Homo sapiens: one gene and its partners. The protein of the gene in region 1 purifies or fractionates together with the protein of each later gene. This does not show direct contact. Each region holds a gene or a part of one and is shown in the gene's direction. Other genes may lie near its edges.

What was found. Proteins that work in one complex are often made in the same cells at the same time.
Region 2: the proteins of MTFR1L (region 1) and CER1 purify together in Homo sapiens (co-immunoprecipitation; one large-scale study listed by IntAct). This does not show direct contact.
Region 3: the proteins of MTFR1L (region 1) and KLK2 purify together in Homo sapiens (co-immunoprecipitation; one large-scale study listed by IntAct). This does not show direct contact.
Region 4: the proteins of MTFR1L (region 1) and GZMH purify together in Homo sapiens (co-immunoprecipitation; one large-scale study listed by IntAct). This does not show direct contact.

What each region holds. Positions count from the first base shown.
Region 1 is NC_000001.11:25,826,454-25,829,953, forward strand, and holds part of MTFR1L (mitochondrial fission regulator 1-like), read left to right. Parts: intron 1-161; coding exon 162-373; intron 374-3,055; coding exon 3,056-3,377; intron 3,378-3,500. UniProt on the Homo sapiens protein: Mitochondrial protein required for adaptation of miochondrial dynamics to metabolic changes. Regulates mitochondrial morphology at steady state and mediates AMPK-dependent stress-induced mitochondrial fragmentation via the control of OPA1 levels.
Region 2 is NC_000009.12:14,719,934-14,723,900, reverse strand, and holds the start of CER1 (cerberus precursor), read left to right. Parts: upstream 1-1,167; 5' UTR 1,168-1,228; coding exon 1,229-1,735; intron 1,736-3,514; coding exon 3,515-3,811; 3' UTR 3,812-3,967. UniProt on the Homo sapiens protein: Cytokine that may play a role in anterior neural induction and somite formation during embryogenesis in part through a BMP-inhibitory mechanism. Can regulate Nodal signaling during gastrulation as well as the formation and patterning of the primitive streak.
Region 3 is NC_000019.10:50,876,439-50,878,752, forward strand, and holds part of KLK2 (kallikrein-2 isoform 1 preproprotein), read left to right. Parts: intron 1-33; coding exon 34-320; intron 321-433; coding exon 434-570; coding exon of another isoform or gene 571-607; intron 608-1,965; coding exon 1,966-2,121; 3' UTR 2,122-2,314. UniProt on the Homo sapiens protein: Glandular kallikreins cleave Met-Lys and Arg-Ser bonds in kininogen to release Lys-bradykinin.
Region 4 is NC_000014.9:24,606,886-24,611,119, reverse strand, and holds the start of GZMH (granzyme H isoform 1 preproprotein), read left to right. Parts: upstream 1-1,434; 5' UTR 1,435-1,506; coding exon 1,507-1,561; intron 1,562-2,707; coding exon 2,708-2,855; intron 2,856-3,372; coding exon 3,373-3,508; intron 3,509-3,713; coding exon 3,714-3,971; intron 3,972-4,234. UniProt on the Homo sapiens protein: Cytotoxic chymotrypsin-like serine protease with preference for bulky and aromatic residues at the P1 position and acidic residues at the P3' and P4' sites. Probably necessary for target cell lysis in cell-mediated immune responses.

The sequences.
Region 1 (3,500 bases):
CCCAGAAGAGGTGGCAGGCAGCAAGGAGAGAGGAATGAGAACTGTGGGCTCAGAGAGGAGCAGAACCTTACTATACTACTCTCACAGAAGTGGGGGAAGGAACCTTAGGAGCACAGTGGCCTGCTGTCTCTAACTGATCTACTTGGTTTTCCCTGGTCCAGGAGTGATACGCGCCCCCTGAGGCACACCTGGAAACCCAGCCCTCTGATTGTCATGCAGCGCAATGCCTCTGTTCCCAACCTGCGTGGGTCCGAGGAGAGGCTTCTGGCCCTGAAGAAGCCAGCTCTGCCAGCCCTAAGCCGCACTACTGAGCTGCAGGACGAGCTGAGCCACTTGCGCAGCCAGATTGCAAAGATAGTGGCAGCTGATGCAGGTAGGAGCCCCTGTGCCAGGGCCAGAACGTAACAGGCTGTTCCTTTCCCCTGGCTCTTGGGCAGGATAGGGGTAAAGAAAGTGGTAATCCTTGGTTTGCAGGTACTTAGGTTCCGGGCCCTGGGGTTGTCCTGAAGCCTGGCTAGCCAGTAGTGCCTCTTAGATGGTTTCTACCAGCCATTTTGGGCTGAATGGTTTGGTTAAGAACAAAATATTAACCTGTGACCCCAGGCAGAGTCCCTCCCTTAGCCCCCAAACTGATACCCTCTTCTAAGTGTCTTTAAGATCACATCTTACATAAGCCCACAGTAGCTTTTTTTTTTTCTCCTCTGAGTGAGTCTTGCTCTGTCGCCCAGGCTGGAAGTGCAGTGGCACGATCTTAGTTCACTGCACTCTGCCTCCCAGGTGCAAGCGATTCTCCTGCCTCAGCCTCCTGAGTAGCTGGGACTACAGGGGTGTGCCACCAGGCCTGGCTAATTTTTATATTTTTAGTAGAGACAGAGTTCCACCATGTTGGCCAGGCTGGTCTTGTATTCCTGACCTCAGATGACCCACCCACCTCAGCCTCTCAAAGTGCTGGGATTATAGGTGTGAGCCACCGAGCCCAGCCAGTTTTCCTTTTTTTGGAGACAGGGTCCTGGTTCTTGCTCTGTTGCCCAGGCTGGAGTGCAGTGGCGCAATCTTGGCTCACTGCAACCTCTGCCTCCCAGGCTCAAGCGATTCTCGTGCCTCAGCCTCCTGAGTAGCTGGAATTACGGGTGTGCACCACCACACCTGGCTAATTTTTTTATTTTTAGTAGAGACGGGGTTTTGCCACATTAATCAGGCTGGTCTCAAACTCCTGGCCTCAAGCAATCCACCCAGCTCGGCCTTCCAAAGTGCTAAGATTATAGGCATGAGCCACTGTGCCCGCGGTTGAAACAAGAGTCTCATTCTGTCACCCAGGTTGGAGTGCGGTGGCACGATCTTGGCTCACTGCAACCTCCACCTCCTGGGTTCAAGCAGTTCTCGTGCCTCTGCCTCCCGAGTAGCTGGGATTATAGGCGCATGCCACCATGCCCAGCTAATTTTTTGTATTTTTAGTAGAGATAGGGTTTCGCCATTGCCCAGGCTGGTCTCAAACTCCTGAGCTCAAGCAATCCACTTGCCTCAGCCTCCCAAAATGCTAGGATTACAACCATGAGCCACCGCGCCCTGCTTTCCTTTTCAATACAAGAAGTAAACATTCCCCCCACCACCACTGAGACTTACCCTTTTTAAGCACCTATCTTCCCTTGCCTTGTTGTTTCTACCAGGAATCACAAGTGGCTTTACCACTTCAGTTCTTATACTGCTAGTGACATTGTCCCCATGCCCCACCCTTCAAAGTGGGGAGTTTCATGACATTATGTTATGTTTTCTTATCTCAAATTGGTGGACTTTTTTGGTGGAAGGAGAATTTCATAAAGTTGGAGATCTTGGCCTTAAAATACAGTGGTCGGGCACTGTGGCTTACGCCTGTAATCCCAACACTTTGGAAGGCTGAGGTGGGTGGATCACCTGAGGTCAGGAGTTCGAGACCAGCCTGGCCAACATGGTGAAACCCTGTCTCTATAAAAAATACAAAAATTAGCTGGGCATCGCAGCATGTGCCTTGAACCTGGAAGGTGGAGGTGGAGGCAGAGGTGGAGGTTGCAATGAGCTGAAGTTGCACCACTGCACTCCAGCATGGGCGACAGAGTGAGACTCCGTCTCAAAAAAAGAAAAAAAAAAAACAGTGGTCTATTATGCAAACAAGCCCTGTAACCCACCCCTCCAGCTTTCTGTCTACAGTTAAGGCAGAACCACTGGAAATGGATGGGAAGCCTGCCTTAACCAGAGGCATGGACAGCCAACAGGTGGATCGCTCCCAAGATGCTCAGGGCTTATCTTCATATTCCTCCCATCCTCATTTTTTCACTCTGCATTGACTCAGAGTCATAGCTCTGAAATTTATCATTTGGTAGGACACATGAAAATCATGGTGTTCTTTGAAATCTTCATGTATTTAATTTCTTCACATGGAAGTTTTATGAAGAATTGTACTGAAACTTTGTTATTTCTTGGCTACTTTTTTGTCATCCAAGAGACAAGCAGAAGTAACATCTTTTTTAGAAACATAGTTTTTAGTGTATTTAGTGTTTTTAAAGTATTTTTAGAAATGTAAAAACTGAGGAAATTCTCTCCACTGAAATTTGGGGAGGTTGGGAGGTCTGTTACCATTCTGGTTTTGCTCAGAACATGTCTTCTAGTTCACAGATAGCAAGATTTCAAAGGAGCATAGTCAAAAGCACTAGTCTAGTTAGAGAAAAGGACAAATTCAGGCCTTAGCTCTTATCTCTGCTGCTTTGGCCTATGACAGGGCTGTCACTCCACAGCCTATTGTGGAATGGGAGCTTTTAAATGCCAAGGCCATTATGGGGCTGGGTTTTCCTGCCTTCCTGGAACACTGGAAAAGCCCAGTGCTTCTACAGCTTTCTGAGCCCCCGAGTGAGAAGCATAGTGGAATGACCCTCCACTGGCTACAGATACCATCCTGGCTCTCCCAGATTGTCATGGTGTCAGCCCAGGAAATGAATGTTCAGTAGGCAGGGCTGTGGGGAGAAGATATTGCTACTGTGTTCTAGCCCCAATGTCCACCCATGCCTATTGTTTTCTCTTTCAGCTTCGGCTTCATTAACGCCAGATTTCTTATCTCCAGGAAGTTCAAATGTCTCTTCTCCCTTACCTTGTTTTGGATCCTCATTCCACTCTACAACTTCCTTTGTCATTAGTGACATCACCGAGGAGACAGAGGTGGAGGTCCCTGAGCTTCCATCAGTCCCCCTGCTTTGTTCTGCCAGCCCTGAATGTTGCAAACCAGAACACAAAGCTGCCTGCAGTTCGTCTGAAGAGGATGACTGCGTCTCTTTGTCCAAGGCCAGCAGCTTTGCAGACATGATGGGTATCCTGAAGGACTTTCACCGAATGAAACAGAGTCAAGATCTGTAAGTATCTGATGAGGAGCTCTGGTATCTATTTACTCAGAGTTGCCCATGGCCAATTATGTAATGCAACATACTTACATAGTAAGTTCTTAGTAGTACCATATGTTATGTCATTCATAAAGC
Region 2 (3,967 bases), on another chromosome or scaffold:
CCCAGTGGAAATACTGTTTGAATCATGTGGTAGGCTGATCGGACTCTATTCTGGGGTTTCAGTTTTCTGGACGTGTTTCTTTTTCGTATCCTAGGCTGATTCATGATAGTTTTGAATGATAGTTATTTTTCAATTTTTCCTTTGATCCCCGAAGACTCTTATTTGTGTCAATCTTTATTTAGCCTGGCCATCAATTAGTGTAAAACAAGGGGAGATGATGTGGATTCAATAAGGTAAGAAACTGACTAGCCAGCGTCACACACAAAGTTATCAAACCTGGTTCTTAGAATCCACGTTCTCATGTCTGGCTCTTTGTTCAAAGGGAAAAAAAAATCAATAGGATGGCTGGAGGGAGACATTTCCCTATCCTCATTGAAGACTGATGAGCTGTCAGTCTATTACGTGGTATCCTGTTGAGGAACATGTGAACAATTGGAAGAGTTTATCTGATGACTGACCAGTTGTGAAATTTAGCACCCATTAATTGATTCTTAATGTGAGAGGATTAACTTGGGAATTGTGAGTTTCTACGTGTGGAAAGGAAAACATATTCCCTTTACTCAGTTACTGTGCAAAAATCAATAACCCCAATTTGCATGTAAGTAAGAAACAATATGTCCCTTGCTCAAAAAAATTAACATCCTTCTAGCTCTTCCTTTCTTCTCCTTACAACTTTGATATACTTCTTCGTGTGTGTGTGTGTGTGTGTGTGTGTGTGTGTGTGTGTGTGTGTGTGAATAGCCTTCCTAAAGGCCTGGGCTTTTTCTAAATGTATGCCTTTAATTTTTATCCAAAAACTTCTCTTACAGCAACATGTCTTGTCTATTCTATTCCAGCACAAGGCAGATGCACAGCAAATGTGAGCTGACTCTAGTCCTTCTTCTGAAAACAGCCATGGGAAATTTAGGCAAAGAATGTGTTGTCTTTGCTAATACTGCTCTTTAAGCCCCAGACATAGCTAAACTCTTAGCTAATTACCCCCTGGGTCCCAGGCTTTCACTGGGGCCTTTTAAAATACACAAAACCAAAGTGACGGCAGGAGGCCATTAGCACTACATAATTCAAGCAAACAATAAATGTGTTTATTCTGCCTGGCTACTGACCACCTGCCTTCCCATCCCGCCAGGCAGGTATCTATATATACGATTTCCTTTTTCCCAGTCCTGCAGAGAATGAGCCTCTCCTTTGGGCCTCATCATTTACAAAAGAAGCTTGGGCCCCTGACAGCATGCATCTCCTCTTATTTCAGCTGCTGGTACTCCTGCCTCTAGGAAAGACCACACGGCACCAGGATGGCCGCCAGAATCAGAGTTCTCTTTCCCCCGTACTCCTGCCAAGGAATCAAAGAGAGCTTCCCACAGGCAACCATGAGGAAGCTGAGGAGAAGCCAGATCTGTTTGTCGCAGTGCCACACCTTGTAGCCACCAGCCCTGCAGGGGAAGGCCAGAGGCAGAGAGAGAAGATGCTGTCCAGATTTGGCAGGTTCTGGAAGAAGCCTGAGAGAGAAATGCATCCATCCAGGGACTCAGATAGTGAGCCCTTCCCACCTGGGACCCAGTCCCTCATCCAGCCGATAGATGGAATGAAAATGGAGAAATCTCCTCTTCGGGAAGAAGCCAAGAAATTCTGGCACCACTTCATGTTCAGAAAAACTCCGGCTTCTCAGGGGGTCATCTTGCCCATCAAAAGCCATGAAGTACATTGGGAGACCTGCAGGACAGTGCCCTTCAGCCAGGTATGTGTTCTGGGGGGAGAGCAGGTAAGAGTTTGCAGGTGGTAGTGGACAGCTGGGATGGATGGAGAGTAGGGGAAAAGGCTGTCAGGAGCCTGACTCTAGCTTAACTACAGATTTGGTCCTTGGGCATTCATCATAGGATTTGGCAAAGATTAAGTTTCCTTCTGGCCTTTCCATTTTTTCTTGGCATTGTGGAAATGCTGCAAGAATGATATGATGATACTGTCAATATCAGTAATCATTCATTCACACTGAAGACACAGAGCTCTGTTTTATTTATTTATTTTTGCATTGGAGGTGATCTACTCAGAGATATAAGTCAGACTGTACCCTCAGTTAGGAAACTGAGAATTTAGAGTAATCACCAGAACTCCTCTGTAGCTATCTTTCTGCACTCTATTAATATGTGGATGAGCAGGTCAACTCCATTTGTTGATAAAGTGGGGTGCATTGGACTCCTTCCCAAATACTCTCATATCCATTTACGATGGTCTTAATCCCCATAGTCCATACTTAATTACTTTATAGGTTTATGAGGGACTTCTTTAATAGCTTGCTAAAGCTATCCCACAACCTCAAAGTACGTTGAGGTTCTCAGGCAAAAGTTGTCATATCATTTCTAGTATTATGATAGCAAAAAAGTGATTTTCTTTCACTTATTTTCTCATATGAGCTTTTTAAAAAATCAATCTTGATGTGAGATCATATCTCCTCCCCTTAGAAGTACCTTTCTCCTGATTCATGTTGTGTTGGCTGATTTGTAGTTATTATGATCAATTCCATGCTATTAAGACAAAGGGACATCCTACTGTCTACTTCCTCTGGCAATATCTACATTCCAAATGTTAAATTAAAATTGAGAACTTGCATTAGGTCCTTAAACATGAAGATATTGAACCAAAAACATGCAGGGTAGAGTAAAATTTTATAGTCGAGTAATGCTACCCAATTAAGCAAGCAATAGAATAGGGCAATTGACTGTTCAAGGCAGTTAAGTATTCTGCCTGAAAAGGCAAGGATATGTAGCAATGGCAAGTCAATTATCAAATAATAATGACTACTCTGTTGGCCATGTGCAATTAGAAAATTACCCCTAAGAATCAGGCAATCAAATTTCTTTTGAAATTCTTCTTTTGAATTCTATTGCTAATTAAATTAAAACTAAGATGTTTGACTCTTACATATTTTGAAAGGCATATAAAGCTAGGTGCTTGGAGTTATGAGAGGTAAAGGTGATGTAATATACAATGATTTGCAGGCATATGCATTGTAACTCTGCTTGCATACAACTTCATAGACTTGAATGTACTACAGGTCTTGCAGAATAGGATAGAATTAAACCTAGAATGTTCTGATCTATTCTACGATCAATGTAACAAATATGTATTGGGAGCCTACTATGCACAAAGCCCTGTGAGGAATAAAAAAGTAAGGCACATTACTTATGTAAGATAATTACCATTAGAATTTTTCAATCGCTCACATCCAATTAGACAAAATTGCTTAAGGTTTTGCACGAATAATGTAGAGTAAAATATTTTTTATGTTAACTTAGGGATTCCCTAAAGGCTGTTTAATAATTTACTCAATAAAGAAAATTTAATTGAGGTGGTTCTGTGCCCTTATAGATACCATCACTTGCATATTGCAAATTGTATCCAAAATTGGAAAGCTTTGAAATTTTTAAATTATCCTCAGATTTACAGTCCATAGCTTCTGCATTATGTGTGTTAAAGAAATAATTCAAAATAACGTAATGGAAATGTGTTTGCTTTTTAGACTATAACCCACGAAGGCTGTGAAAAAGTAGTTGTTCAGAACAACCTTTGCTTTGGGAAATGCGGGTCTGTTCATTTTCCTGGAGCCGCGCAGCACTCCCATACCTCCTGCTCTCACTGTTTGCCTGCCAAGTTCACCACGATGCACTTGCCACTGAACTGCACTGAACTTTCCTCCGTGATCAAGGTGGTGATGCTGGTGGAGGAGTGCCAGTGCAAGGTGAAGACGGAGCATGAAGATGGACACATCCTACATGCTGGCTCCCAGGATTCCTTTATCCCAGGAGTTTCAGCTTGAAGAGCTATCCCACTATTACCTTTGAAAAGCAAAACCACAACAGCAAAGATGCTGATTATTCAGTCTGAAAATGTTAAGTGGGTACATAACATTTTCAGGGAAAGGTGACTTGAAACGTAGTTTTAAATTAGAACGATAGAGGAAATGATATTAGTC
Region 3 (2,314 bases), on another chromosome or scaffold:
CTCTCCTCATGCATCCACCCCCTTCCTCCCCAGGAATAGCCAGGTCTGGCTGGGTCGGCACAACCTGTTTGAGCCTGAAGACACAGGCCAGAGGGTCCCTGTCAGCCACAGCTTCCCACACCCGCTCTACAATATGAGCCTTCTGAAGCATCAAAGCCTTAGACCAGATGAAGACTCCAGCCATGACCTCATGCTGCTCCGCCTGTCAGAGCCTGCCAAGATCACAGATGTTGTGAAGGTCCTGGGCCTGCCCACCCAGGAGCCAGCACTGGGGACCACCTGCTACGCCTCAGGCTGGGGCAGCATCGAACCAGAGGAGTGTACGCCTGGGCCAGATGGTGTAGCTGGGAGCCCAGATGCCTGGGTCTGAGGGAAGTGGGGCCAAAGAACCAGGTGGGGTCCGGCCACAGCCCAGTTTTTCTCTGACCCATAGTCTTGCGCCCCAGGAGTCTTCAGTGTGTGAGCCTCCATCTCCTGTCCAATGACATGTGTGCTAGAGCTTACTCTGAGAAGGTGACAGAGTTCATGTTGTGTGCTGGGCTCTGGACAGGTGGTAAAGACACTTGTGGGGTGAGTCATCCCTACTCCCAACATCTGGAGGGGAAAGGTGAGTGAAGACCCTAATTCTGGGCTGCAATCTGAAAGCTAACCAGACATCTGCCTCCCCTGCTCCCCAGCTATAGCCACGCCCCCTCCCCATGCCTCATCTGCCGCCCTCCTTCCCCCTTCCCTGACTCCCTCAACACAAGAGGTGATTCTCACAGCATAATTCACCCATTCCTGTGTTGAGCACATGCTTACTGGGCACCTGCTACGTGACCAGCATTGCCGTAGACCCTGGGAAGCAGCAGTGAACAGGTAGAGAGCAGCCTCTCCCTCCTGCAGCCCCCATGCTGGTGAGGGGCACTGGCAGGAACAGTGGACCCAACATGGAAATGCTGGAGGGTGTCAGGAAGTGATCGGGCTCTGGGGCAGGGAGGAGGGGTGGGGAGTGTCACTGGGAGGGGACATCCTGCAGAAGGTAGGAGTGAGCAAACACCCGCTGCAGGGGAGGGGAGAGCCCTGCGGCACCTGGGGGAGCAGAGGGAGCAGCACCTGCCCAGGCCTGGGAGGAGGGGCCGGGAGGGCGTGAGGAGGAGCGAGGGGGCTGCATGGCTGGAGTGAGGGATCAGGGGCAGGGCGCGAGATGGCCTCACACAGGGAAGAGAGGGCCCCTCCTGCAGGGCCTCACCTGGGCCACAGGAGGACACTGCTTTTCCTCTGAGGAGTCAGGAGCTGTGGATGGTGCTGGACAGAAGAAGGACAGGGCCTGGCTCAGGTGTCCAGAGGCTGTCGCTGGCTTCCCTTTGGGATCAGACTGCAGGGAGGGAGGGCGGCAGGGTTGTGGGGGGAGTGACGATGAGGATGACCTGGGGGTGGCTCCAGGCCTTGCCCCTGCCTGGGCCCTCACCCAGCCTCCCTCACAGTCTCCTGGCCCTCAGTCTCTCCCCTCCACTCCATCCTCCATCTGGCCTCAGTGGGTCATTCTGATCACTGAACTGACCATACCCAGCCCTGCCCACGGCCCTCCATGGCTCCCCAATGCCCTGGAGAGGGGACATCTAGTCAGAGAGTAGTCCTGAAGAGGTGGCCTCTGCGATGTGCCTGTGGGGGCAGCATCCTGCAGATGGTCCCGGCCCTCATCCTGCTGACCTGTCTGCAGGGACTGTCCTCCTGGACCTTGCCCCTTGTGCAGGAGCTGGACCCTGAAGTCCCCTCCCCATAGGCCAAGACTGGAGCCTTGTTCCCTCTGTTGGACTCCCTGCCCATATTCTTGTGGGAGTGGGTTCTGGAGACATTTCTGTCTGTTCCTGAGAGCTGGGAATTGCTCTCAGTCATCTGCCTGCGCGGTTCTGAGAGATGGAGTTGCCTAGGCAGTTATTGGGGCCAATCTTTCTCACTGTGTCTCTCCTCCTTTACCCTTAGGGTGATTCTGGGGGTCCACTTGTCTGTAATGGTGTGCTTCAAGGTATCACATCATGGGGCCCTGAGCCATGTGCCCTGCCTGAAAAGCCTGCTGTGTACACCAAGGTGGTGCATTACCGGAAGTGGATCAAGGACACCATCGCAGCCAACCCCTGAGTGCCCCTGTCCCACCCCTACCTCTAGTAAATTTAAGTCCACCTCACGTTCTGGCATCACTTGGCCTTTCTGGATGCTGGACACCTGAAGCTTGGAACTCACCTGGCCGAAGCTCGAGCCTCCTGAGTCCTACTGACCTGTGCTTTCTGGTGTGGAGTCCAGGGCTGCTAGGAAAAGGAATGGGCAGACACAG
Region 4 (4,234 bases), on another chromosome or scaffold:
GTAGAAGGAAACATGCTTAAGCATTAATAATGATCTCCGGTGGTAGAATTTTTGGTAAGTTTAATTTTATCATTTACATGTTCCTACTTAACTATACATATATATTTATATATATTCATATACATAAATATACAAACATATGTATATATACACATTTTTGTTTATGGACAGCCTATGACTGTGAGCCAAGGGACATCAGAGACATGGCTCTCTGGAAACTGAGAGAATACTTAGTGGACAGTTTTTTGTTTGTTTGTTTGTTTGTTTTTGAGATGGAGTCTCGCTCTGTCACCCAGGCTGGAGTGCAGTGGCGCGATCTCAGCTCACTGCAAGCTCCACCTGGGTTGACGCCATTCTCCTGCCTCCGCCTCCCAAGTAGCTGGAACTACAGGAGCCCGCCACCACGCCCGGCTAATTTTTTGTATTTTTAGTAGAGATGGGGTTTCACCATGTTAACCAGGATGGTCTCGATCTCCTGACCTCGTGATCCACCCGTCTTGGCCTCCCAAAGTGCTAGGATTACAGGCATGAGCCACCGCGCCCGGCCTTAGTGAACAATTATTATCAGGATGATCAGCATCCATTTTTCCATCACCTGGCAACAACAACTAGCATTTCTCAAGGGAAATCCCCTCCTCATTCATAAGCACCATAGATGGAGTGGAACAGTCCCCACCTCAGCTTAAGGAGGGCTAAATAACCAAAGCATAAAGCAATCAGTCCACTACACTTCAGTGGACCCAATGATGACTCATTTTGGTTCAATAAATATCAAGTCCAGAACTTTTGTGCAGAACTGTGGAATAAAAAAAGTTATCTTTGTCACAGAATATTTATATTTAAAGAGGGGATTCTAAATATCCCAAAAATATGAATCTGAGATAGTGGTAAGATAGGAATGGGTTGCCATTTGCAGTATTTGTTGGGTGTGTGCAACTCTGCATACTGCTAAGGCAAGTCCAGCCTCCGTCTCACACCAACAGGCAGATTTCCCCACCACGGCCCTTACCATCTTGTGCTCTAACCCCAGATTTTCAGTCTACTCTTGCTAACCATCAATTCTTCAAGGGCAAGAGCCATGTCTCTCATATCCCTGGATCTGGCTTGCTAAATAATTATTCATGATTTTATCTGAGTAGAAAAAGAGCCAAGAACTGAGAAAAGGAGACATTCTTGGTTCTCAGTCACTGAGGAGCTTCTGCAGTACCAGCCTTTCTGCTAGCTGCAGCCACAGCTTCAACAGCTCCACCTCCTTGTTCTTTATTCTTGCTTTCACCTTGTTACTCAGCAGCAGGGGTGTAAATGTGACAGTGCCATGTCAACTTAAACCAAACCAGATAATTTTAATAAACCACCTTCTATAATGACACCCATCAAAACCAGAAGGGGACAAGTCTAGGAGGTCTCTGAGTTTACTGTACCCATCCCTCCTTCATCTCCCTCCAGCATTTGTTTCTGGAAGGAGTCAACACCAACAGCTCTGACCTGGGCAGCCTTCCTGAGAAAATGCAGCCATTCCTCCTCCTGTTGGCCTTTCTTCTGACCCCTGGGGCTGGGACAGGTAAGTGACTATCCCTATTCCAGAGGCCTGAACCCATCTTATAAGATACCCTGTACCCATGAGCACTGGTCAGGAATTTTCCTCAATCTGAGCCCACCTCCCATTCCACACCCAGACTTATAAATCTGAGGCTAGATAGACACTCAGCAAAGATCGAAAAATGAAGGGTGTTCCCTAAAAGGTTTAATGGGTGTTAGCCTCTCCCTAGACCTCTCCTTTATGACCTGGAGTGTGGATTGTTCTTAGAAAGGCATTTGGTAGGGAATGTGAAGCTAAAAAAGATAAGTAATTATTACTCTACACTCCAACCCAGGAAAGAGGAGCTCAGACACCAAGTTGCAGTCATAGGAGTTGTTACTGGACTCAGCTTAAGAACCACTTATTCAGTGCCCCCACCCAGTCACCCCTGCCAGGAGGGAAGCCCATGGTGCAACTGATCTCAGAGATGGCAAGATGACTGTGTCCATAGCTCTCCCATTACCTTGGCTCCACCTGGGCTTTGCGATTCATTTTTAGTTGATTTCTCCACTTCCTTCTGCCTTTGCAGGCCCTCAGCTACTCCACTGACCTGGTGATAACCCCCTCTAACATCCCTGAGGTCCTGAATCCCACCAGCACTACCCCCACTAAACCTCAGCCAAAGGCTAATTGGAGGCTATTCATTTATGCACCAAACAACACTTACTGAGAACCTAGAATGTGTTCAGCCCTGGCACATGAGAATTTTAGAAAATCCAACTCCAGAAGCTCATGGGTAGATCATTAGAAAATGGCACCAATCAGGAGGACAGCAGAGGCTCAGAGGAATCAGAGAGACTCACTAAAAAGGAGGAGCCTGGGAAGTCCTGTCCAGGATCCTCTGGGGCTCTACCACTGTGAAAATAGATCTTTCTTCCTCCATGTGTGTTTCTGCAGTAGGATGCAGAAGTCAAGCACTGTCCATTCTTTCTGAGAGAAGGTTCTGAGACTTAAAGTTCAGAAAAGCTTGCTCTGCCTGCAAGGAGTACTGCCTGCAGAGCTCAGGAGGACCCCTCCCTCACTGTCTGCAGCACACAAAACACTTCACCCTCAATCACTGTCGTCCTAAGCCTTCTCTCCTGACTGCAGCCATCCCCAGCTACTTTATCTTCCAGTCTTTCCTTTCAGAGGAGATCATCGGGGGCCATGAGGCCAAGCCCCACTCCCGCCCCTACATGGCCTTTGTTCAGTTTCTGCAAGAGAAGAGTCGGAAGAGGTGTGGCGGCATCCTAGTGAGAAAGGACTTTGTGCTGACAGCTGCTCACTGCCAGGGAAGGTAAGGAGCAGCACCAGCTCACCTCCTGAGTTCCCCCTACAGGGACCCTTGTTTTCTCCTGGGGACTGCAGCCCAGGGGAGCTTCCAGAGTTCCTGGTAACACAAGCCCATGAAAGCTCATCGGAGCAGCCACCTGGGAATAGGACTAAGATGATGAAAGGCTGAGAAATAGGACAGGGTCAGAGGGTCAGAGGGTCAGAGGTCAGAGCAAGTGGCATGGTTTCACACACTGGCCCAATAAGGCAGTAGTAAAGGTTGAATCCATGCATTAAGGATCAAAATGCAAACTCGAGCAATTTCATGATATTTCCTGAAGGCAAGAGAGAGCCCCCAGAAGCCCTACTCTTCATGTCTTTGTGAAGTAGAGGGCACAGTCACTCAGCCCTGGAGCCCTCCTGTCCCTTCAACTTCCCCTCAGCTGCAGCCCTACCCTGCCACAGCTGTCATCTGCTCTTCACTGCTCCTGGGCTCTATCCCCTGTGACTCCACCCCCATCCTCACTCTGCTCTCTGTGCAGCTCCATAAATGTCACCTTGGGGGCCCACAATATCAAGGAACAGGAGCGGACCCAGCAGTTTATCCCTGTGAAAAGACCCATCCCCCATCCAGCCTATAATCCTAAGAACTTCTCCAACGACATCATGCTACTGCAGGTGAGGCACACTCCTGCCACTCTTGCTCTTCTTGGTCCAGTTGGTTCCACTCCCACTGGGATGCCGGCCCTTTCCTCCTTTCCATCCTGACCTCTTGGTCAGTTCCTGTGCCTTAGAGGAGAGGGAAGATTGTGCAGCCCCATCACTGTGTCGGGGCCCAGAAGGCCATTGCCTGACCTGGACTTTCTTGCTTCTTCCCCACCAGCTGGAGAGAAAGGCCAAGTGGACCACAGCTGTGCGGCCTCTCAGGCTACCTAGCAGCAAGGCCCAGGTGAAGCCAGGGCAGCTGTGCAGTGTGGCTGGCTGGGGTTATGTCTCAATGAGCACTTTAGCAACCACACTGCAGGAAGTGTTGCTGACAGTGCAGAAGGACTGCCAGTGTGAACGTCTCTTCCATGGCAATTACAGCAGAGCCACTGAGATTTGTGTGGGGGATCCAAAGAAGACACAGACCGGTTTCAAGGTTGGGTTTCCAGCCTCTACCCAGAAAGACCACAGGGAGAGAGGAACTTGAGGGAGTTCTGGGGTATGACAGTGGCCAGATCTTTATGCTCTCAGCCCAGAGCTTGGGCAGCCTGTGTCCCCCTGGAATCTAGTCTTTAGTCCACTCCTTGGGTGGACTGGGGTGGCTGGAGGGGAAGGATCTGTCATCCGACAGTCACTTATCACCAAAGTGTCCGTGAGAATTGCAGAGAAAGGCTTGGTCTGGGGAGAGCCAGAAAGCAC